Linked DNA regions of Homo sapiens: all the other regions are linked to region 3. Evidence: fine-mapped expression QTL. A gene starts in region 3. Each other region holds a variant in brackets. All regions are shown on one strand. Distances are from middle to middle.

The links. PIP is the estimated chance that this variant, and not a neighbour inherited with it, causes the effect.
Region 1: its variant is fine-mapped to the expression of MAST4 in whole blood (INTERVAL, PIP above 0.99).
Region 2: its variant is fine-mapped to the expression of MAST4 in monocytes after interferon gamma (Fairfax 2014, PIP 0.95).
Region 4: its variant is fine-mapped to the expression of MAST4 in monocytes after LPS (Quach 2016, PIP 0.95).
Region 5: its variant is fine-mapped to the expression of MAST4 in pancreas (GTEx, PIP 0.98).
Region 6: its variant is fine-mapped to the expression of MAST4 in monocytes (Quach 2016, PIP 0.95).

The regions. Positions count from the first base shown.
Region 1 is chr5:67,029,386-67,033,473 of GRCh38, reverse strand. All of the region lies in intron 4 of MAST4 (microtubule associated serine/threonine kinase family member 4), which reads right to left. Among named protein-coding and RNA genes, the nearest start is that of MAST4-AS1, 27 kb to the right of the region's middle. The variant T/C (reference allele first, on the strand shown) is at 2,295.
Region 2 is chr5:66,620,235-66,624,322 of GRCh38, reverse strand. The region is part of intron 1 of MAST4 (microtubule associated serine/threonine kinase family member 4); the gene reads right to left. Among named protein-coding and RNA genes, the nearest start is that of MAST4, 26 kb to the right of the region's middle. RefSeq lists an enhancer at 1-25. The variant G/AG (reference allele first, on the strand shown) is at 1,903.
Region 3 is chr5:66,594,409-66,598,496 of GRCh38, reverse strand. It overlaps MAST4 (microtubule associated serine/threonine kinase family member 4), which reads right to left and starts at 2,104. Exons shown (of 29, transcript NM_001164664.2): 1 at 1,479-2,104. The coding sequence starts at 1,841. RefSeq lists silencers at 1,359-1,508, 1,519-1,658, 2,269-2,468.
Region 4 is chr5:67,167,348-67,171,435 of GRCh38, reverse strand. It overlaps MAST4 (microtubule associated serine/threonine kinase family member 4), which reads right to left. Exons shown (of 29, transcript NM_001164664.2): 29 at 1,843-4,088. Among named protein-coding and RNA genes, the nearest start is that of CD180, 27 kb to the left of the region's middle. The variant C/T (reference allele first, on the strand shown) is at 1,831.
Region 5 is chr5:67,209,390-67,213,477 of GRCh38, reverse strand. No RefSeq gene overlaps it. Among named protein-coding and RNA genes, the nearest start is that of CD180, 15 kb to the right of the region's middle. The variant T/AAATT (reference allele first, on the strand shown) is at 2,244.
Region 6 is chr5:67,162,123-67,166,210 of GRCh38, reverse strand. It overlaps MAST4 (microtubule associated serine/threonine kinase family member 4), which reads right to left. Exons shown (of 29, transcript NM_001164664.2): 28 at 3,423-3,604; 29 at 1-3,064. Among named protein-coding and RNA genes, the nearest start is that of CD180, 33 kb to the left of the region's middle. The variant T/G (reference allele first, on the strand shown) is at 2,520.

The DNA of each region.
Region 1 (4,088 bases), 430 kb before region 3:
ATAAATCCTGCCTATGCCTATGTTGCAATATACTATGCCAAACTAGCTCAGCTTGACTGCTTTTTTTTTTGCCTGTATAGTTTCTTCAAAAAGGAGAAGTATCTGTAACAATCTGAAAAAAAAAAAGCCACACACACACACACACACACACACACACAGAGAAATGAAAACCCAAAAAAGTAATCCTTACAACTCTCAGCTGAGAGAAAAATTTCACTGTTATTTTAATGTTAATAGCTGCCACTTTTTAAAAAGTGTTATCAAGTCAGCAAGAGTGTTTTTCTTTCTTTTTTTTTTTTAAGGGTTAGATGTTCACAGTAAGAACTAATTAACTGCCAAGAATGAGATGGGTTTCCAAAGGAATGCCATTCTCCTCATCAAATACTAGTTTCTATTTATTTTAAGTATGACCATTCATTCTTAATCTGAAAGTCTTCGTAAGCATGGTTAGAACAGGGCAAAAAGTATTTATATATGATTCTACAACATAAAGTAATTATCTTAGTGTTGGATTGAAATTCACCTGTATACATATAAATATGGTACATCACTTTTCATAGTTTGTTGTCTGTACAATATTGAACATGAAATAAATGGCAATAGGTCTGAGCTACTAGATGTTATTTGTAGTTACTATAAGTGTGTTTGTGTATTTCTGCTTAAAATATAGATACACATCATTTTCTTTTTCAAGGGTTTTGAATTCTGTTGTTCTCAATAATCCTCTCATCATTTACCTAAAAGTCTATGGTAAATAATCATTGTACATACTGACACATGTGACCATATGAAATAGGTAAACCACTGATCCAGACAGACCAGACTATGCTGCTGAAAAATCATCAAGTCAGGTAAGAAGTAACCCTTATTTTGTTCTTGATGTAAAATAATTCTGCCCTCCCCCAAAATAAAAATGGCGTTTAAAACCGGTCTTATTTATTCTAACATGATACCTTATAGCTCTCCTACTAGGCACTGCAGACAAGCATGTATCTTGTTCTTTCTGTGACCCTAATGCAATACCTGGCACAGAGGCATGCTTAATTAAACCTTGCTGAATAAATGAATATTTTGAAAGAATAAGCCAATAAAAATGAGAAAAGATAAATTTTGCAAAAAACGTGGGTGGGGAAGTTTAGTCATAATAAAACCCAACCTTTCTTAAATCTCCCCCTTCTCAAATTAGTGGAAGTTTCCATTTTACAGTTTCTCCTAAAGATCCTGGAATCTTCATTAGAAAGCAGAGATTGTGGGTCAGGCTGTGCTGAGAGGTAACAAAGTCAGATTTTTTCATTGGCCTCCAGAGGCTTAATCTAAAATGGATTACAGGTACAGCAGGATAATTCACAGAAAGATTTAGGCAACTGCAAACATTCTGAAAGAATCTATAGATTAAATGAGTTAAAGCAGCCATGGAGCAAGAGTTTTTGGAAGGGGGGCAGATTGCTTTTGACAAATAAGCACCCCTTCAACGCAAGTGACAGAAGTAGGTCACGATGAGTAACTGAATTTTCCACTGATTCATTTCCACATATATCAGAGGCAGTAAAGGACACCAGTGATCTAGTTCTCCACCTGTAAGAGCTGTACAAATTAGTTCTCTCACGAAAGAAGGTGGAATAAAAACTGACCCAGCAGGGAGAACTGCCATCCTGACCTATGAATAGGTCACTAGGCAGTAAGGTCAACAGGCCTGACAGGAATATTCACTTCAGAGAAGTCCCCCATCTTTAGAAACTCTAACAATTTAGATTGTAGGGATATGGGAACAAGATGATTCCTGCTCTTTCTCCAGCTAACAGATCAGCACAATCAGGTTTAATGGTGTTATGCCAATTAACATGTATTTTACAAATCTTCACTAAGTCTGTACGCAGTTTTTCAGTGTTTAACTTTGAATGCAAATAACCTCTACTTTAAGTGTGATAGGGAAAAATTTTGCAAATCATGTCTAAATACAAATTCATTTATTTTAGTGCAAATGGAGCATACCACTGTAAATGTCAAATAGTCACCATCCATTATGATAACAGGGCCCAGCCAATCTTTCCAACTTATTCAAAGTTCACTGCATGAATGATCCAAGCCCTCAGTCCCTAGACAGAACTTAAAATATGTCCTTATTAAAAAATTCAAGGGCAATAAATCAGGCTAAAAAGGCGACAAGAGACGACCCTCCTCTGCCATCAACTCTGGGAAATGCCCAGGGCTTTCTGCTGGACTAGCCAGGGAGCTGACAGATTCTCTGTATCTATGCAGAGGAAAGCAGCAAAGAGTAGCAATTTAAAGACTGA[T/C]AATCTCCACCCACCAGGAACTGATATTAATCTATTTAATAAACGCATACATTTTAGTCTAGTCAGAGATCATCCACAGATGAAAGTAAATGCTTTTTTCACATAGGAAAAAAATATCCTATGTGGAAGTGTTATCCCCAATAGACATCAATTTTACTTTTTACAGGACAGTTAATGAGTTAGGCAGCATTATCCACACTTTAAACAAAAGTAGTCAAATTCTAGCAACTTCTGAAATACCAGCCAAAGCTACAGGAAAAAAATTTCACCATAACAGTTAATTGGCATAGAATCAACACCCATGACCTTGGCCTCTTTAGCACAATGTTCTATTGCACTAAAATACTAAATAAAAACATAGCGTTTGAGATACCCAAGGCTTTATAAAAGTAGACGTTGTAAGAGAGTGACACAAACACCCAAGATAAAAAAAGTGCTGAGGTACAGAACACTTAGAAGAGGTTAGGTGTTCCAAATATACAATGTTTGTATGGTTTTAATGTTTTAAACTAAACTCCCTTGAAACTACACAACAGAATGGAAGGGCTTAAAACCACAACCTCATTACTAATACAAAACAGATCTTATTTTAAATATCACCCCTTAGGACTCTGACCAATTTGCCCCAGGCCTGCTCTGGAATGGTGATGTACAGAAATGAAAAGGTATTTATTTTCTGAGTTAAAATGTCACTCAGATGATCTATTTTTGCCACCAGTGCTATGGTTACCTCTTCAAAACCAAAATGATGATTATGTCATTTTACCACAGCTATCTAATAAACATCAGATGGTCATCTCAGAGCTCTCATTCAGTGCTAACCTGGTTCAAGCCAAAGTTTAAAAAGAAAACAACCCTAAACCATCAAATATTGCTTGTAACACTATAAAACAAAAGAGATACGGAATACAGGTATCACACCATGCTATTACTAAATTAACTATAGAGCCTTTATGTTGTATTGCCCTGAGAAATGATTTGTTAAATAAAAACCTATAAGGATGTGAATGACCCATATGTATACAAAATATTTAGATAATAAAAATACACATTTAATTTGAAATTTGGTTTTACAATTTCCTAGATGCTCCTAAATATATATAACACTTAACAAGGAATCATGTGAAATACTAGTAAATTTCAACCTTAAACATACATTTTTATTTAATTGAAAAAATTTCATTAAACAAAATTTAAGTATATAATTTAGAGAAATTCAAATGTATAAAAATAATATATAAGTCTTAGTTTCAGAATAATTAGGATTAACTTTGTGCAAACTCGTAAACAGGACAAACTTCAAGTCCACAGCAATTTCAATAATGTTGTTAATATCAAATTATAAAGTCAACAGCAATGAATTTATATTTTCCTTTCTCCTACCTTTTTCACATGAGGAAATGTACTTTCCTTCTAAAACTCCTACTATTCCATCCACCTCACTTTCATTCTTCATGGACACAGAAATCATGCTGCCAATAAAGGTTTTCTAAGTAGCAAACACTTTTTGTTCTTATCAAAAAATAAACAAACAAAACCCAACAATCAAAACACACCATCACCTTGCCATAGAATTTTGCAACCCCAATTTCCTGCTCAATTTCTTTCAAACCTCTCCAGCCTAATTTCCTTTTTCTTAGAGATGAAATACACAGAATGGTAAGGTCCCTCAATATACTTAACTAAAAGAAACATGCTAGCAGTTTGATGACATTTCAGTAGGTATCTGATCCTCCTACAAGCAAAGATGTTTACATCCCGAATATTACTCCAAAGTAAAACAAAACATATATG
Region 2 (4,088 bases), 26 kb before region 3:
AAATTAGCCAGGCGTGGCAGCATGCACCTGTAGTCCCAGCTGCTGGGGAGGCTGAGGCAAGAGAATGGCATGAAACCGGGAGGCAGAGCTTGCAGTGAGCCGAGATCATGCCACTTGCACTCCAGCCTGGGTGACAAAGCAAGACTCCATCTCAAAAAAAAAAAAAAAAAAAAAAACATTTTAACAATATTAATTCTTCCAATCTGTGAACATGAGATCTTTCCATTTGTTTTAAATTTCCTTCATCAATATTTTATAATTAAATGTACAAGTCTCTCACCTCCTTAATTCCTAAGTATTTTATCTTTTCTTGCTAATGTAAATGAGATTCTCTTAATTTTCCTTTTAGAGAGTTTATTGTTGATGTACAGATATGCCACTGTTTTTGTATGTTGATTTTTGTATCTTACTTTACTGAATTCACTGATCAGTTCTAACAGTTTTTGTGAAGTCTTTAGGATTTTCCATGTATATATGATCATGACACCTGCAAACAGATAATTTTGCCTCTTCCCTTCCAATTTGAATGCCTTTTCTTTTTCCTGTCTGTTTTCTCTGCCTAGGACTTCCAGTACAATGTCGAAGAGAAGTGATGACATATGGCATCCTTGCCTTGCTCCAAATCTTAGAGGAAAAACTAAGTTTTAGCCCATTGATTATAGCGTTAGTTGTGGGTCCTTCATATATGGCTTTTACTAAGTTCCTCTTATGCCTATTTGGTTCAGAGTTTTTAATCATAAAATAATGTTAATTTTTGTCAAATATTTTTTCTGCATCTGATGAAATGATGTTTTTATCTTCTATGCTGTGAATGTGGCATATCATATTGTATGTACATTGAACCATCCTTGCATCCCAGGGATAAATCCCACTTGGTCATGATGTATGATCCTTAAAATGTGCTACTGAATGATATTTGCTAGTACTTTATTGAGGATTTTTGCATCTATGTTTATCAGGGATTATAGCCTGTAGTTTTCTTTTCTTGTGGTGTCTTTGTCTGGCTTTGGAATCAGGGTGACACTGGCCTCATAAAATGAGTCTGGGAATGTTTCCTCTTCTACTTTTTGAAAAGCATTTAAGAGGGCTTGGTATTAGTTTTTTGAACCATGGTTCTTATAAGGCCATAATCCTTGTAGCTACAGATGTCAGCCCACACATCTCTCTGTGTTTGAGGGCTTCCCTGGTGACCCACTGGATATCAGGGTTTCTTTTGATAACTTTATGGATCAAAAGGGATTCACCCAAAGGATCTGGGTCATCTTCACCTGTCCCATAGGAATTCAGGACTCTCAGGGACCCATAGTAGCACAAAGTCCATAACTTAGCAACAGACTGAAGGCTATGAGCAAACCCCACCACGGACAGCACAAGCTGCAGCCTTAGGAACAGGGCACCTATGGCCATTAGGGCACACACAAACCCAGAAGATGGCATAACCTTGGTTAGCTTGACATCTCTGTCTGGTGCTTTATTGGGTCTGGGATTCTGTGCCGCAAGGTTGTTATTAGGCTGGTTGTCTGACATCTTCCCCACTCCATAAATGGCACTCTACCCTTTGAGTTCACCTGGCCAAAAACTTGGAAGTCCTCTTTGATTTTTCCAGTTATCATCTTCCATTTTCACTCTGTGAGCAAACCCTGTCAAGTTTATGTTCAATACACATCCTGAGCCTGTTTGCTTCTTACCACCTCTATTGTCAACCTGCTCCAAGCACCATCACCTCTAACCTGATTACTGCAGTAACCCTTAACTGATTCTCTGTTTTCACTCCAAGCCTCTTTAATCTATTATCCATACAGAAGCCAGTGAGCCTGTTAAAAATTAGATCTTGTCACCCTTCTACTTAAAACCTTCCAGTGACTATGCAACTGATTTCCAAGTTAGAAAAAAAAAAAAAAA[G/AG]CCTTACAAGGACATACAAGGTCACATGACATGGCCTTACACTTCATTCCTAGCCTTTGATCTCATCTCCTACAACTCTCTCCCACACTTGTTCTGCTCCACTCTGGCCTTCTTACCATTCTTCGAATTCTCCAGATATGTTCCATCTCAGGGCCTTTGCACTTGCTGTTTCCCCTTCTCTCCAGATAGACACATGGCCAAACACATCATCTTGTTCAAATCTTTACACAAGTCACTTTCACGGAAACATCTTCCTCGACCATGCTGTCAAAATCTATAAATATCCCTCACCCCACACCCCAGCACTCCATATTCCATTTTTTTTTTCTCCTTAGGGTACACTACCATGTAACACAGAGGTCTGCAAACTAAGGAGGACTGTGGGTCAAATCTGGCCCGCTGCATGATTCTGTAAATAGCAGTGTTGTTGGAACACAGCTATATCCTTTCATGGACGTATTGGCTATGGCTGCTCTCACACTACAGTGGCAGAGTTGAGTAGTTGCGACAAAAACCATCTGGCCCACAAAGCCTGAAGTATTTACTATTTGGCCCTCTATAGAAGACGACTGTCAACTCCTGCTCTAACCCATTGCCTGACATATTATCTGCCTCCCCTCCATGCAATATAAACCCCATGAGACCAGGGACTTTTGCTTGCTTTGTTCATTACTGTATTCCCAGTGCCAGTAACAGTACCCGATGCACAGTAGGTGCTCAATTAGTATTTGTTGGGTAGACGGAGGAATGAATAAATTGGTATGGTTGACTTGAAAGGTCTAGAATACACTAGTGACTTTTTTTAACCATTTTTATTGTGAAATATGCAAAAAATACCTAAAACATAAGAGCAAAGTGTAATAAATAAATATAGAATACTCTTGTAACCACCACTCAAGTAAATAAGAAGATATGGCTAATGCCTTTCAAGTCAAAATAGTGTGCTTCTCTAAAAACCAAATTAACTAAGATGCAAAGTAGAATAAAAGCCCTGTTTTCTCTGCATGCTCTGGTTCTTAGACATGCTATCCAAACATTTTCTCACTGCTACTCATACAATAGCACACTGCGAGACAAAAGAATGAGAAAAATTCCAGAACCTCACTACAAAGCCACCCTGTTAAGGCACATGCCATTTAAGTTGCCTTACAGTAGTGCCTTGGACATTTTGAATATAATCATCTTCTGTTATTTGAGGTCCCCAGAATCAAATTCTACTCTCAAATGAACATGACACTACTGAGGCTCCCACCTATTTATGTAAATCTCCGACTTCATTTTTCTTAAGTATTTCTGATCCCTCAGAACAAAAAATTAACACAGTCATCCTCAACTCCTCTTCATTTATATCTCTCTTCACTTTAACAAGACACTGCTGCTGGTGCTCAGAGAATTCAGGGAAAAAAAAAACAATCTATTTAGAAACAATTCTGACTTAACTGCTGTGTCATTTCCTATACTTGTCTCCCTTTCTCTGAATTAGGGGGGACAGTTGCATTAAAACCGTATCTCTTTTACTTAGAATGCACCTGCTTGGGCTGATTAAGCCACAACTGAAGTCACAATCCTCCACTTTTGAGCTCCCTACCATTCTAACAAAATGAGTTATCACTTCTGGTGAGACATTTAAAAAAAAAAAATCAGGACCTGTAAAAACAGAATTGTCCCCATATGAGGTGGAGAAAAGAGAGATAGACACAGAGGCAGGACGAAAAAAAGATGTAAAAACAAGGACTAGCAAATATTTTCTCATAAAATCTACAAAAATGTTAAGTCTCAACTTACAGATAATTACCATTCCCATAAATGAGACTACTGCTCACAGAGCTAAATTTTTCTCTATTACAGCATTTCTACAGAAATGTCACATATTGTTTTGTTTTACTAAAGGCCATGCTTTGTTGTTTTTTTTAAAGGCTATCAGTTAGGGTTCAATGCCATTATTAACGGCAAGTATTAGAGATAATGTGCCCATACTAATTTCACACAATGATACTTTTTATTATTACAAATAAAGAAGTACTACATAACTTTGTTGAAAAATTTAAAACTGTATTGAGCTTTTACAATATTTTAATTTGTAGGCATAACTTCATATGGTTTTAATGTGGAGGGGAAGTAGTATTGTAGACTTCTATATATTTTCCCCACTCACAAATATTTACATGCAATACAATATAATTGCT
Region 3 (4,088 bases):
ACTCAGCAAACTCCTGACATCCCGCCGCTAGGATCGATTTGGAGCTATGGATTCATCTGAAATTCCTGATTCGAAACAGGAGTATGAGAGTGAAAATGAAATTTACCTTGAAGCTCCTCCTTTTACAGATTATGGAACTGAACCTCAGAGGAGTGAAATGATATACCCAAGGTCTCACCACTCAGTAGCAGAGGCAGTTCTAGAAAGCAGGCCTCCAGACCCTTATCCAGGATCCTTGCAATGGGGGCTTAGGGGAATTAGGGAATGGGTCATGGTTACTGCAAGTGGCTTGGCCAAGAACCAGCTAAGCAGCTAAGGCTTGTTCCATCTCTGCCAAGCTAGGACTCGCCTCCTCTCAACCTTGTGCCACATCCAGTTTTTGCTTCCAGGCTGGGGGCCTCTGATTGCTTACTCTAAGGGACAAAGGCAATTATTTACTAAAGCTAACCCCATCCAAGATGAGGAAAATACAACACTGGCACTCAGGAATTAATTTCACAATAAGTCTATGTTAAGGTGATGTTTTATTTGTGGCCCTGCCTGATCAAGATGACTTCCCCACAAGAAACGTCCAAAGCAAACAATCTTTTTTTTTTTTAAACTGAGTCTGGCTCTGAGACGTGAAGAATTGTACACTTCTTTAACTGTCCTCCAAAAGCAGAAAATAAGCCGGACAGAGCAGCCAGAAGGACACCAGAGTCCTATGCTCAGTGTGTCAGGAAGCGACCCACAAGTTCTGGAGGAACATCCTTCCAGGAAACTGGGCAGATACAGATCCCCCACCCCGCTCCGCCCCGCAAAAGGTAAGACGATCTGTACTCGGTTTGGTGACAAGCGTTCATCTGGACAAGCTGGAAACAAGTCTGAACGGGAGCTGCAGGCGCGCACGCCAGCGCCACCGAGGGAGCGCGGGGAGTCCTCTTCTCCCAGAGGACCGACGCTGCGGGGACGCGCCAAAACCACCCGCGGGCGATCCCAGGGGGCTGGCGCCACTGAAACCTCCGCAGGCAACTCCGCGGCTACCGCTGCCCCCCACCCTACTCCTGCCTCTTACCCCCAAGGCACCATTTCTCCCCCTCAACTCCCTGCCCCTCGGCCCAAGCGCTTCGGTGGGAAACAACGCCCACTTTGGAGAATCAGAGGTGAGTTGTGGGGACACGCCAGATGTCCAGATCGCATCCTTTCACAGATCAACCAAGTCAGATACAAACACGAAGGAGTTTGCTTCTCTGACATTTTAAAAACACACCATCAGGCAGCACACTGAGACACACACACGGGGGTAACAGCCACAGGGAAGTCAATAACCCACAGGGGGGCTCCTAACTATCGTTGTCCCGTGCTCGGGGCAGAGCGCTTGGGGTCCCTCCCTATCTCCAGGCCACAGCGCTCTCCTGCCCACTGCCTGTGCGCAGGATGGGAAACTACGGTCGCCCGGCTGCCGGAACCCAGAGTGGGCAAGCTGGGGAAAGGCCCACCTCCTCGTCCTGCTCCTCCTGGGACGCGCTGCTGCCCCGGGGCGCGGGCGGCACAGCTCCTCCGGGAAGCGGCGGCGGCAGCGCAAGGACTCCGCGCTCCAGCAGCACGCTTGCCGGAGCCCACGCGGCGGGCGCCCGGGCGCCCAGGGTGCCTCCCAACGGCGGCGGCGGCGGCGGCTGATGCTCTCTGGAGAAGCCGCCGGGCTCCCCTTCCTCCGACAGAGTTTCTGAGCCCGAGGAGGACTCGGCCGAGGAAGCACCCGGAGAGGACGCGGCGACCAGCGCAGAGGCTGGAGTCCGGCTGCCGTGGCCACTGCAGCCGCGGGGCACCGGCTCTGGCGCCTCCGAAACTTTCTCCCCCATTTCCCTGTCTGGCCCAAAGTGCCTCCCGAGCGGCGGGGGCGCGGCGCGCACTCAGCGCCTCCCGGGGAAGACGCGGGCTCCTGGGCTCAGGCTCACTGGCACTGCCGCTCCCGGGCTGCAGGGAGCCCCGCCAGCGACTACATGGCAGTGACGGGGCCGCAGGAGCCCGCTGCTAAGTTCACAGCCGCCCGGGCCCGGCCGCAAACGGAGGCTCCCGCGCGCGGGGACATGCCCGCTCGGGTCCGCGATCTGCGCTCCACTGTGCTCCCGCGCTGCACCCGAGCCGCGGGTACTGCGGCTTCTCCTTGCAAAACCTGCCTCCGGGACGGAGCAAGGAGACGGGCAGCCCGCAGAGCCAATGGCAGGGCAGGCGCGCTGGTGGGCGGAGGCTGCGACGCCTCCGGCCATGAGGGCCTCAGGTAGGGGAGGCGGGGCCCGGGCGCGGGCCGTGGTCCCGCTGGAGCGCCTGGGCGCAGGGGACAGGGACCAGGCGGGGGTCCCCGGAGGGTGGGGGCGGAGCCCAGAATCGGAGCCAAGGGCTGAGACTCCGAACTTAGCGGGGGAGTGGCTGACCGTCCTTGGGACGTCAGAGGGAGACGGCGAGCGGATGGTGAGACCTTGGAGAAGAACTGGACTTTGTCTCCAAAAAGTGGAATCAAGAAAACGGACAAGAAGGAGGGCTCTATAGGGAAAAAAGGAACCACACACACACAGTCACCCACGCACACGGACTCACCAGCGTGTTGGAGGAAAAGGACAGAAACTTCGTGGTATAGTGAGCGGACCCAAAGGGGAGTGACCTCTAATCTCTGCTTTTCCGTTTAAGCTCTTTGGGCCTCAGTTTCCTCAACTGTAAATGGCTACATTACTACTGGTCTTGGCAGGCTTAGAGCAAATATATATAATGCATCAGCAAAGTGCCTGGCTTGGATACACGGAGCGTTTTTAAAAGACTATTTCCTGTCTTTATTTCTGTTTGTAAACTAAAAAGTTAAGTCTGAGACTTGAACCTTTTGATAGGGAGGAAGATAAAAAAGTATGTCCTTGTATTTAATTAGGACCAAGCTCTGTAGTCCTACTCAAATTGTCTGTCTCGGTATGATCAGCTAAGCAGAGGATGAAAAGGATTCACTTTCCAATGTACATTCTCCTAGCCCTGGGTTGTAAACCAACAGGATACAGGACAGGTTGCTTCATTTTCCTTACCTCTAAGAACTAGGAGAAAGAACTTTCACTAAAGGTACCAATAGAGTACCCTTAAGTCCTTCCCTGGGGCTGGAGGATGCTGCCTGTCCGGTGACTGGAATTTCCTTGGAAGCCAGCACTCAGCTCAGCAGTGGGAAATAAATGATTCCTCTCTTGCCTTCAGCTCTAGTCCCATTCTGAGCTCTGGCACAGTGACCTGGGATGTAAATTCAACCGCCTCAGTTCCATGTACGTTGATGGAGATGTGTGCCAGGTGCAGGGGATACAAAGATTAATAAGTCAGGTCCCCTGCCCTTGAGCAGCTTATGGTCAAGCGAGAGATTGATACTGCATAATATAGCTCCCTTATCCATTTTAGAAGCTGTGATAAGTGATACAGGAAAAATGTGTGAGGGAGAAGAGGAAAGAGTTACAGAAAAACAGTAGCAGGTCCTTGAGCATCTTAGATTTCTCTTTGTCAGAGCAGCCTTGCCAAAGGTCCTTAAAAACTGGAGGACCCTAATTGAAAGCCCCTTCAGCTAATGAGCCTTTCATGCTATCATGGTATTTACAAGTGATACATCACACAGAGGGCTTCATCATATTGGACAGCAACCTTTGTCCTGATCAGTTTCCTCCCCTCAAGATGAAGGGGAAGGAAATACGTTTTGTCTATCTTGCTTCAGACAGCCATACTGCAAAATGGACTCCGGTTGTCAGGCTTTCATTGTGACGCTTCTGAATTATTCACAGGGATATGAAGACCTGCTGAGGCAAAAGGTCAAGTCTAGTGGCAGCTAAGTTGTGAGAGCAAGGCTAAAGAGAGAGCACAGTGGGGCAGTCCGAATTTAACCCGGGCCTCACAATTACTTTCCTATTTAGGAGTTCTGGTCTTTATCTGAGCCCCTACGTGGTTGATTCACCAGAGCTGAACTGAAATGACAATTTCAGCCATGCACATAAAAGAAGAGGAGGAGTTGCTTTTCAGTACATAGGGAAATAAGAAGCAAGGTCATGGTCTGAATAACCGACAGCAAGAATGACAATAGTTATTATCGCCTG
Region 4 (4,088 bases), 570 kb before region 3:
GAATTATGGGGGTTACAATTTAAGAGGAAATTTGGGTGGAGACACAAAGCCTAACCATATCAGCAAATACTTATTGATGTCTCCGATGTGCTTTGTCCTAGAAGTAAAAAACAAGACAGAGAACCAGGGAGCTTGAAGTCTAGCAAAGAAGATACACATGTAGAAAGGTAACTCCAAAATAACGCAGTGAGTGCCATGAGGCAGATACACAGTGAAGCAAAGACAGTCCACAGGTCGGTCCAGGCCTTTCCAAAAGGCTTCCTCCAGATGTCTGAGTCCAGCACACATGCTGAGCTGGAGTTATCTAGGGTAAGGATACATTTAAGGAACTGGCCTTTACCCGAAGAATATGGGTGCTACTTAAAGGTTTAAAGCAGGGTAGTAACATGGTGTGCTTACACTTGAGCAACATCACTCTAGGGACATTGTGAAGAACAGACTAGAAGGGGTAAGAGCGAAGGCAAGAAAACCAGTTAGGAGGCTGTTGAGGTCATCTGGAGAGAGACTATGATAGAGACCAAACTAAGGCTGCCAGTAGCACAATAGTGACGGGACATGGATTGCACAGAAGAGTATATTGTGAAATCAGTGAAGCTTTTTTTTTTTTTTTTTTTTTTTTAAGATGTAAGGCAAGAAAGAAGAGTTTAGGCAGAAATCTAGGATCTGACTCGGAGAAAAGATGGGGAATACAGTGAGCTTTGAAAGAAGGGGCACCAAAATAAGCATATTTTTGGACATTTTGAGTGTGAGGTGCCTGAGCCAAGTTGAAATGCTCAGGGACCAAGGACGAACCCAGGAAACACCAGTATTTAAAGGGACAAGAGGACAAGGAAGAAATTCTCTAAAGAGAGAAAAAGAACAGGTTGAAGACAACTAGGAGAGAGGGCTGTCAGGGACAGACCGGTTCTCAAGATGGTCTACTGAAGTGATGTCTTGACAAGAGGGCTTTAGAGTCAGCTGTGTCACTGGTGACCTCTACCAGAGCGATGTTGATGGCATGGGTGACAGAGCCAGGTTTCAAAGGGGTGAAGACCCAAAAATACTAAGTGCAGACTCCTCTTGTAGGATGTCACCTGAGAAGGGACAGAGGGAAAAGGCCAGGTAAAGAAAGGGTTTTCTGAAAGGAAAGAGACAGTTGGGGAGGAAAAAGAGAATGCTGAGGCAGACTATGGTAATTGATGGAGCAAGTTCGTGAGAGAATGAGAGGAGGTGGTGGTGGTGTCACAGAGAAAGGAGAATCAAGACCCCCTGAGTGTGGGAAGATGGTGAGTGTGAGTGTAGAAGTTGGTAAGTTCTGCAGGCAAGGAAAAAGGTTGGTAGAAAAAAATAGGAAGAAGTTAAAAGAGGACTTAATCTTTTTTTTTTTTCTTTTTTTTGGAGATAGGGTCTCACTCTGTTGCCCAGGCTGGAATGCAATGGCACAATTATAGCTTGTTCACTGCAGCCTTGAACTTATGGGTTTAAGTAATTCTCCTACCTCAGCCTCCTGAGTAGTTGGGACAATAGGCGTACACCACCACACCCAGCTAACTTTTCAAGTTTTTGTAGAGATAGGGTCTATGTTGCCCAGGTTGGTCTCCAATTCCTAGCTGAAGCCATCTTCCTGCCTTAAGACTCCCAAATAGCTAGGACTACAGGTGAGCACCACTATGCCCAGCTAAAGGACTTAATGTTGAAGAATATTTGTGTACATTTTTAAGAAAAAAAGGCAAACTGTTCCACTCAGCAAAAAGTAATCTGTAAAAACCTATCCTTTCCATAATACCAGAGTAATAATCAGTAATATTTTTTGGAGGTGGAATGCATATGAGTATATTAGAAAAAAACTTA[C/T]GAGTCATTATCTTTTCATGCTAAATTTTTATTTCAATGTTATGCAACTGCATAAGTATAAATATTTTGTTCAATATACAACAATTATGACGTCCATAAGGAATTTCTTAGAGAAAATAAGACTGCAAACACTTTATTGCACAGATCCTAACAAACTTTTAAGCTGGTAAATCTACAGCTGGGAGTACTACCAAGGAGCACATCCTACAATCACACAGAGACTGACCAAATAGAACACAATGAGGAGAATTTCTACCAGCTGATTGGAGAGGTTTACAACAACAAACATGTAATACATGAATGCAACCTTAAGTACTCTTTACTCATTTATAATGAAAAACATATTTGGCAAAAATGATGATACACTATACAAAATATACATAAAAATATCATTTGTAAACAAATAGCTAGTTGTGCTTTAAAGGAAATTGGACAGTTAAAAAGCAAAGGCTTGTAAACCATGAACTACCTCCCCGACAGACTTGTCCCGATGGCTGAATGTAGGATTGGGTTATGACAACTGCCAAACACAGATATGTATTATAAACGTTGAGACCAGTTTTGAAATCCATTAGTAAACTCTTGTAAAGTATATATATATATTTTTACAGCTTCACAATATAGTGATGGGGAATGGCTAAAACCATATGGGAAAAAAAAATTAGGGGCAAGGAGGAGGCTTTTTTCTTTTTCTTTTTTTGTTTGTTTTTTTCCTTTTTCCCAAAGCCAATTCATTTTACAACGAAGGACAACTGAGCAGTCGGTTAAGTTATGCCTTTGTTTTCAGAGTGGAGTTTATAGCCTCACTAGAAGATTTACAATCCATAAGGCCATAAGATGATGCTGTGCTTAGATGAACAATTTTATAGCGTGAAGATACTAAGACATCCCCCAAGAGAGTTTGGGTGCTAGATCAGTTATTTATTGGTAATTTTTTTTCTCTTACAAAACCAAACAAAAAATTCTGCTATGGTTCCCAAGCAACTTATAAATACTTATCTGTATTTTCTCTTAGTGCCTTAGTATTTATATCAGCAAGTGCCATCTTACAATACAAAACAAGCCACCAAAGAAACTGCAACAACAGAAACAAAAACAAGAAATCAAAAACCTTCAGCACTAAAATGATTTGACAAATTCTACATATTCCACGGTATACAAAATTTAAATAAGGCTTAGCAAAAGTAAAAAGGATGGTCACATTCAAGCACCAAATAGCTCCAGCGAGTCTCTTTGTTACAAAAATGCTGCTCTGTATTAAGACAGTATTTTTTGCATACAAATAAAGAGATCAGGTTATGAAATGTGTGGAGCTACTAGATGCAGCAGAAATGAATGTGAAACCCAGGAACTTGCTAAAAACAGCAAGCTTCATCTACAACATAAGGCCCCAGCTATGTATTAAAATGTATCTGATGTCCTGATTATTCTTTAATCGATATGCTACGATGCCAAAATCCACCCCCAGTTCTTTTCCTCAAAAAAGCAAATTTAAAACCTCTTCCAATGCCTGATGCTTATTACTCAAGTACTAGAAGATTTGGGTGCAGCCAGTAATTTTCCTTTTTATTCAAGAGCAGGGCTGGTGCAGGACTACTACAAAATGTGTGCTTCTTGGACTAGTCACTCACAGCATAAAGGCCTGAGTTTAAGAGTTTGAAAAGAAGGAAAAGAAAGCAAACAGAAAGAAAGTTGATGTGTGTTTATAGTCCCCGCTCTACCTCAGGTGAAGGCCAGACATCCACATCCACAGAAAGGAACAACTGGCCTTTTAGACAGTTGGACCAGGGATCCAGTGTCCATTGGGATGGCCGTGTAATGAAAATGGCTAGCTCCACTTGTCCTGGCCATTCCTAATGGAGGAGGATTCCAAATGCAGTACTTAGAGTAGTTCTTGCTTTAGATCTGGAAATATAGGTAGCCAGATACAGTACTATCAGAAACTCTGGTTAAAATACACATAAAAACTCAGAATCTACTGTGTTTAGGGCTTTCTTCCATCTTAACTTAGAATGTTTTAGCTTATAAAAATGGAACCTTGAAATAGTCTCTTAAACCACAGACCAAAACATGTAGGTGGATGTGTATATACACGAATATGGGTGTATCTCTGTTCACACACACCCAGTTTTGACCATTTTGCTTCATTACTACATTATGATAAATGGTAAAGCAAAAATCTTATTTAAAAAAAGCTGTAGTAAACGACGCAATCAGCAGCCAGGTATAGACTCTACATCCCAAACCAAACACGATGC
Region 5 (4,088 bases), 610 kb before region 3:
TTGAGCATCTACTCTGTACTAAGCACTATGCTGAGACCTAAAATATAATGATGAACAAAACATGTATGGTCCTGCCTTCACAATGCCAATAATCTAGTGACTAGAGACAGACACTTAACATCATCACAAATAAAGAGAAAATTACAATGGACATAAATGAACGATTAAAATAAGAATGGGGGCCAGGTGCAGTGGCTCAAGCCTGTAATCCCAGCACTTTGGGAGGCCGAGGCAGGTGGATCACGAGGTCAGGAGTTCAAGACCAGCCTGGCCAAGATGGTGAAACTCTGTCTCTACTAAAAATACAATAATTAGCCGGGTGTGGTGGCGGGCACCTGTAATCCCAGCTACTCGGGAGGGTGAGGCAGAGAATCGCTTGAACCCAGAAGGTGGAGGTTGCAGTGAGCCAAGATCGGGCCACCGCAGTCCAGCCTGGGTGACAGAGCAAGACTCTGTCTCAAAAAAAAAAAAAAAGAAAAGAAAAGAAAAAAAAGAATGGGAAAGATATTATGTTTTGGGTTAGGTTGGTGGCAGAGGAGAGGGAAATTACTGAGGAGAATTAAGATTTATTTATAAGAACCTAGTGATCTTGAAAAAAAAAAGACTTTTTAAAAGAAAATACAGGAGTTATGGCTGGATTAAATGGTGTTGAGGAGAATTTTATGACAAATGTGAGTTCCAAATTTCTGGCTTAAGACATTGGGCGGATAAAATTGCTGTTGTATGAATTGATGTAATAGGCTGAATAATGGTCCTCCGAGGAAATTCATGTCTTAATCCCTGGGACCTGTAAATATTCTCTTATTTGGAAAAAAAAATAGTCTTTGTAGATGTAATTGAGGATCTTGAGATGGGGAGATGATCTTGGATTATCTAGGTGGAACCTAAATGCAGTCGCTTGTATCCTTATAAAAAAGAGGCAGAAGGAGATTAAAACACACACACACACACAGAGGAGAAGGCTATGTAAAGACAGGGCAGAAAGAGAATTGAAGATGCTGGCCTCCAAGATTGGAGTGATGCTACCACAAGCCAAGTGTGACAATTAATTTTATGTGTCAACTTGACTGGGCCATGGAGTGCCCAGACATTTGACCAAACATTATTTTTAATGTGACTGTGAAGGTGTTTCTGGTTGAGATTAACATTTAAATGAACAGACTGAGTAAAGTATATTATCCTCGCCAAAGTGGGCTGGCCTCATTCAATCAATTGAAGATTGGAGTTGAAGAAAAAGGCCAAGTAAGAGGGAATTTCTCTTACGTGACTGCATGAGCTGGAGCATTGGTCTTCTCTAGAGAGACAGTTTGATCCTATTGGTTCTGTTTCTTGGGAGAATCCTGACTAATACAGCAAAGAATGCCAGCAGCTAACAGGAGCAGTAAGAGACAAGGAACACATTCACCCCTAAGGCTCCAGAGGGAGTACAGCCCTGCCAACACCTTGATTTCAACCCAGAGGAATTGATTTTAGATTTCTGGCCTCCAGGACTATGAGAAAATAAATGTGTGCTGGGTTAAGTCAGCTCATTTTTAGTAATTTATTACAGAAGCCATAGGAAATTAATACAATAGGAACTATTATACAAGACGAGTCTAAGTGTGGGGGGGTGGTGTATCAAGATTCCATCTGGGGACAGGCATGGTGGCTCACGCCTGTAATCCCAGCACTTTGGGAGGCCGAGGCAGGTGGATTACCTGAGGTGAGGAGTTCAAGACCTGCCTGGCCAACATGGCAAAACCTCATCTCTACCTAAAAATACAAAAATTAGCTGGGTGTGGTGGTGTGCACCTGTAATCCCTGCTACTCATGAGGCTAAGGCAGGAGAATCGCTTGAACCCAGGAGGTGGAGGTTGCAGTAAGCCAAGATCGTGCCACCACACTCCAGCCTGGGTGACAGAGTGAGACTCTGTCTCAAAAAAATAATAATAAATTAAAATAAATTTTTTAGGCCGGACGTGGTGGCTCACGCCTGTAAACCCAGCACTTTGGGAAGCCAAGGCGGGTGGATCACAAGGTCAGGGATAGAGACCATCCTGGCCAACATGGTGAAACCCCGTCTCTACTAAAAGTACAAAAAAAATTAGCCAGGCGTGGTAGCGGGTGCCTGTAGTCCCAGCTACTCGGGAGGCTGAGGCAGAAGAATGGCGTGAACCCGGGAGGCGGAGCTTGCAGTGAGCCGAGATCGCGCCACTGCACTCCAGCCTGGGCGACAAAGCGAGACTCCGTCTCAAAAAATAAAT[T/AAATT]AATTAATTAATTAACTTTTTAAAGTTCCATTTGGAACATGAAATCTGAGATGTCTAGCACACGCCTCTGGAAAGGAAGGCCGAATAGGGATTTGGATATGCAGGTATGAGACTGACAGAATGGTCTGAGCACAGGCTTGAAGTTCCAAAGTCCCAGGGACTGAAAAGCTGTGGGAAGTGAAGTAAGAAAGAAAGACAGCCAAGCACGTGTCCTGAGGAACTCTCAACATTGGGAGATCAGGTGGAAAGGTAGCCTGAGAAAGAAACTAGGAGAACATGGGGTCTTGGAGGCCAAGGGAGGTGAGTCGTTTTGAATGACAGGGTGATCATCCCTGGAACAGAATCCAATCTGGAGTACATTTTATGAAAACGATGAGGAGGAAGCAGAAACAGCCTGTGTGGGTGACTTATTCTTGAAGTTTGGCTTGGAAAGTGCATAAAGAAAGCAGATAGTTGCTATGAATATTGGATCCAGGAAAGCTTTTTTTAATTCTTATTTTCATATGGCAGAGTTTAGGGCAATTCCATATGATTTGGAAAATGACCCAAAAACAGAAATGGTTGGAAATGCAGGTGAGAGTGGGGCTACCTGCTGAAGCCTGAGAAGGCAGAAACAGAGGATTCAGAGAGCAGGTCTCAATCCTGGCTGTAGTTTAGGATCCCCTGGGGACATTTTTTAAAAATCCCCACACCCAGCCTAAACCCAAGACAAATAACATCAGACTTTTTTTTTTTTCTTGGAGACAGAGTCTTGCTCTGTCGCCCAGGCTGGAGTTCAGTGGTATGATCTCGGCTCACTGCAAGCTCCGCCTCCCAGGTTCACGCCATTCTCCTGCCTCAGCCTCCCGAGTAGCTGGGACTACAGGTGCCCGCCACCACACCCAGCTAATTCTTTTTTTTGTATTTGTGGTAGAGACGGAGTTTCACCGTGTTAGCCAGGATGGTCTCGATCTCCTGACCTCGTGATCCGCCTGCCTCGGCCTCCCAAAGTGCTGGGATTACAGACGTGAGACATCAGACTTTTTGCTTTGGAACCCAGGCATCAATCATTGTCAAATCTCCCCAGGTGATCCCAATGAGTGGTTCCGGGGATTCAGAGCACACTTGGAAGGTGTGGCAGGGCATCCAGGTGCATGTGCTGGCACATGGAGAGGTAGGTTTGAAGGTTTGGTGGGTGTAAATTAAGGAATTCCTAACTTCAGCTTTCTATTTCCAAAATTCAAGGCAAGGTCATATACTAAGCATGTGCTGAACATGTATGGAAGAAGGGGGAGGCTAAGGGGTGAAGAAACGTAAAGATGACACAGTTCATCCTGAGAGTGGAAAAGGGAAGATGCCCCATCTGGAGAACTATGGCAAGAATGCCGGGCAGACTGGGAGTTTATAGCCATGCCATCCGGCCATTCATTCCCCTGACAGTTGTCAGACAGATACCAAACTAGGGGATGGGGCTCAAACATAAGAAAGACATTGTCCCTGACCTCACAGATTTCGCAGTTCAATGGAGGAGGGACACATATTAACAAACAGAAGATTCAGGTGCTACAATTGAGTCACACAAGAGAAATTGGGAACTCTAACCCTTGGGGAGACAGAAGCCATCTCCTCGGCACATAGGATGCTCCTGAGACGTGCTCCTTAATCTCCAAGCACCTTACTGTTGTGGGAAAACAAAGGGAGATACAGCTCAGTCCATATCCTCCAGGGATCGCTAACGCAGCCCCAAAACAGTTATGACACATCAGCAGCACCGTGCCACATGGGGCCTCCAAGCAGGAGAAAGTCTGGAAGGGCGGCAAGACTGAGGTCAACACGAATTTTCAGGTGGTAATCTTCAAGTGACAT
Region 6 (4,088 bases), 570 kb before region 3:
GTGGGGCAATCTTTCACAGTGGATGGTTTGGGGTGCTTTGGAGACAGGGTTTGCTTTTCACCAACAGCGGACAGTTTCTGGTCCGCTGGCTCACTAGGCCCTGGGTGTCCCGGCCTTGGCAAATGCACAGGCTTCTCCAGCACCTCCAGGGGCCGCCCACCACTGGTGGGTTGTGGCTTGGCGTCTAGAGGAGCCCTGTCAGTGTGCAGTGGGACAGAGGGCCCACCTTCTCCCTGGCCAATCCCATCGCTGGCTTTGTTCTGGGAGCCTGGGGTAGCAGGAAACACATCCGGCCCACTCTTACTGTGGCCCTTCCCCTCTCTGCTAGAGCCACCGAGGGACTGAGTGGCAGGCTCTTTGCCCTTTGTGGCCCCGACACTTGGTTTCTGAGAGGAGAGGGACCGGTCGGGGTGCTTAGTCTTTGGAGGGCCCGGGTCAGGGCCAGGCCGGGGCTTGTGGCTGCTGCTTTCACTGTGCGCAGCAACAGGCTTGGGAGGGTCCTGGGGGCTCGAGCTGGGCTCTGCAGTGCTGGGCTTGGCCCCCGGCTCTCTGCCAGAAGCGTGGCTTGGGGAACTGCAATGCTGCCTGGCAGCCGGGCTGGACAGGTCTTTGGCCGTCAGAGGGGGCGGAGGGATGCTGCTGGGATGCCTTTGTAGAGGCTGCTCCTTCCTTTCAGGTTCCTTGGCACCATCTTTCTGCAAAGATGGGAAACTGGAGAGCTTTTCACTCTTCTCACTCTCAATTCCAGGTGGCTGCAGAGACCGCCTGGCAAGAAGCGCTTCGGGCTTGGGTTCCACGCCACGCCTCACCTTGCCCAGCTCCTTCTCACAGGGAATTCCAGCTGAGTGCAGAGAGGAGTTGTCTCTGGGCGGGGGCCTCGCCTCACCTGGGCCATCTTTGTGGTTCGTTTTCCCACCCGGCGCCCATGCTTTCTCCATGGCCTGGGTCTGTGTATAGAAATCTGGGTGGGTCCTTCCCACAGAGAGGAGATTTTTGGAGTTGTCACTGGTTTTCGCAGTTTCTGGAAAGCACAGTTCCATGGAGGGCTCTCTGCATGTGTCAGCCCTCGCAGCAGAGCGCTCGCTTCTGGCTGTGGGAGGGCCTCTTTCAGACGATTCCCTCAGGCCTGGCTTCTCCCTTGAGGGGGAAGCTTCAGGTGGGAGCGGGCAGCGTGGCCTGGCCAGGTCAGGGCTGTGGAGGTTCTGCCCCAGGCAGGTCAGAAGCTTGGGGTCAGTGGTGTGGTCTTGGTGTTTAGGGGAGCTGCCCTCTCTCTGTTGGGGATTGCTTTCCATGACTGTTCCAGGGCTCCTGGCAGTAGGATGGGGACCTTTCCTGTCCCTCTTGAACTCTGGGTCAGGCAGGGAAACTGCTGGTGAATTCTGGAGACCTCGGCTGGGGGGCAGGAACCAAGGCTCCAGCAGGTAGGATTTATTCATCTTTAAGCTGGAAGGAGAAAGCTCTCTTGCACTGGTGGTATCGTTCTTTTTCCCACTGCTGCTGGGGAGAACTGGTGGCACAGAGGCCCTCACGTCACCACTTGGGCTGGGGCTCTGTGCAGACTCTGGGGAAGGCAGTTCTGTCTTGGAGGCCTGAGGTCCGGACAGGAGAGCAATGTCCAGAGTGCCCTCGATCGGCTTCAGGCATGAGACAGACCTACCTTCCAGCTTATACTCGGAGGGGCTCTTCCTAACAGGGGACTCAGGAGCAACCAAGCCAGGCTTCTCCGTTCCACTGTCCACCCGGCCTGTTAAGGCCTTGAGGGGAACAAAAGAGACGGCACTCATCTGAGCTGCATGGGTGCTGCTGACAAAAGCTCGGCTCTCAGAAGCCGGCGGGGGCTCCTGCTGCCCACCCGTGGGTCGGACTGGGTTCCCTGGCAGGCATTCGTGGGAGCCAGCTGTCATCTTGGGCTTCAGCACAGGGCAGAGGTTGTCCTCTTTGTCCTCAAGTGACATTTTCTTTCGGAGGTAATCGATGTTGGCCAGCTTGCTGTCTAACTTTTCACATCGGAGAAGCTCCTTGGCCTGGGAGGACTTCTCCGTGCCTTCCCCCTTCCCAGAGATGCCCCTGTCGAGGGAGTGGCAGAGACCATCCTGGAGGGTGCCAGGAGCGGGGGCCCGTCTGAAGTCCCCGCCACCCTGGCGGTGCTCCGCAGGCACCCGGCCATCCGACATCGCACCCTCGCTGGCGCGCACGCTGGCCTGCTTGTGAAGAGCATCCTTCAGCAGGCTGCCCAGCGGTGGCGCCTCCTGCATAGACGCTTTGTTTTCAAAAGTACTTGACCTTTCCACAGCCTTCGGATAGACTTTCTTCTCTCTCTCTTCCAGCTTAAACAGAGCAAAGTTTTCCAAATCACTCCCGGGTCCATGGGATTTCTGGTGGGATTCCTGTTTCTCTGGGAAGCCGTCTGCTTTCTTCACCACCACCTTGGCCTTCAGCTTGTCGCGGTCCAGGTCGTCCACAGACTCCTGGCGGCCCACCTTCCGGGAGACTGGGCGTTTCAGGCAGCCTTGCTCCAC[T/G]GGCCGGGCGCGGCTGAGCGGCGGCACGTCGCACACGTTCTCATCCAGGCTCTGCAGCGGCGCCTCCCGCTGGGACTGCTCCCGCTGCACCTCCTCTTGGGTCACCTCCAGGCTGTGCTTGCGGGAGCACAGGTGCTTCTTGTCACTGCCGTAAGAGGGCGACAGCTTCTCCTCGGACTGCACGCGCTTGAGCAGCGGGGACCTGGGGGGCTCCGCACTCTTGGGCCTCACGATGTGTCTGACGATGGTGGGCGGGGAGTGCATCTTGCTGGGAAAGGCTTGCGCGATCTTGGAATTGCCCAGTGAGTGTCCCAGAAGAGGGGATGGTGACCGCTGCGGGGAGGTGGGTTGCGGGGTTGGAGAGGGCGTCCGGGCCAGCGGGGACAGTGGGATGTTGCCGGCGGACTTTCGCCTTCCGGACCGGTACCGCTGCCCGCCGAGTTTGGGTGCAAGACCGTGGAGAGTGCTGGGCCGGATGTGCCCGGACCCTGCTGGGGAATTGGGGGCACTAGAACTAGGGGAGCTGCTCTGGGAGGAATTAGTACCTGTGGATGGAAAACAGAAGGCTGTGAGCATCCATGGTCATTTTCCCCTTTTTTTCACAGTTGTAGCCCAGACTGTATTAGGTAAGGCCAGGTAAGATCAGCAAATTGTCTCAGCATTTAGCTAGTGGAATAAACACTTTTCAGATAAACCTCTCCAGGCCAAGGTTTAGCCCCATACTTCTTGACTTATTTGTTTGGTCAGAATAGCCACATCTTATGACCTCTCTATAAATCTGTCTTTATAATTTACACCTTCAACCTGCTTTCTTTCAGCTGGAACAAGCTTCATGTTTTTTGGGGACCTCACATGACTTTACCTCCCCTCCCCTCTGCTGTTTAGACCAGGAGACTCACTCACCAGATGGGAAGTCAGGGGTGGAGCGGTAGCTTGGTGTTGGAGACCGGGGAGACAAGCTATGAGTGGGGGAACCTGGGAGGCTCTCACCCGATGACAGGGATCTGTTCAAGCAGGAGAAACTTCGGCTGGTGTGGAGTAAAGGAGAAGGCTGCTTGGCTAGCTTTTTGAAAAGAGATCTCCTCCTACAGAAAAACAGGAAAAAATTGTTCAGTCTTCTTTCAGAACTATTGCTGCCTCCCCAAAATACCATTGTGCTCAGCTCAATAACTCCGTGTGAGGGACAGGGATACAACAGCAGATCCTATTAAAGAGCAGAACACCACTTTCCTATTAGAAACCTTCTTATGACATGTAAAGGAAGAGTATTTAATAGTAGACAATGGAGCCTCTCTCAATTCCAAACACTTAAGAAGAGTTGGAAAAATAGGAAAAATATAAAATGCATTAAAAATACATTCATTTACTTGTTAGGTATATGAGGAGGATGCTCTTTGCTTGAAAGCTTCTGAGTACCTACCCCTAAATATGCAGACACAACTTAACTAAGAGATAATACAAAGTAAACCTCTGGAAGCAAAACCATTGTATTGGAAATCAAATTCTTTAATGGTGATAGGCTGGGCAGAGGCCAATGAAGGGCTATTTGCTGTGCTTATTCCATTGTGG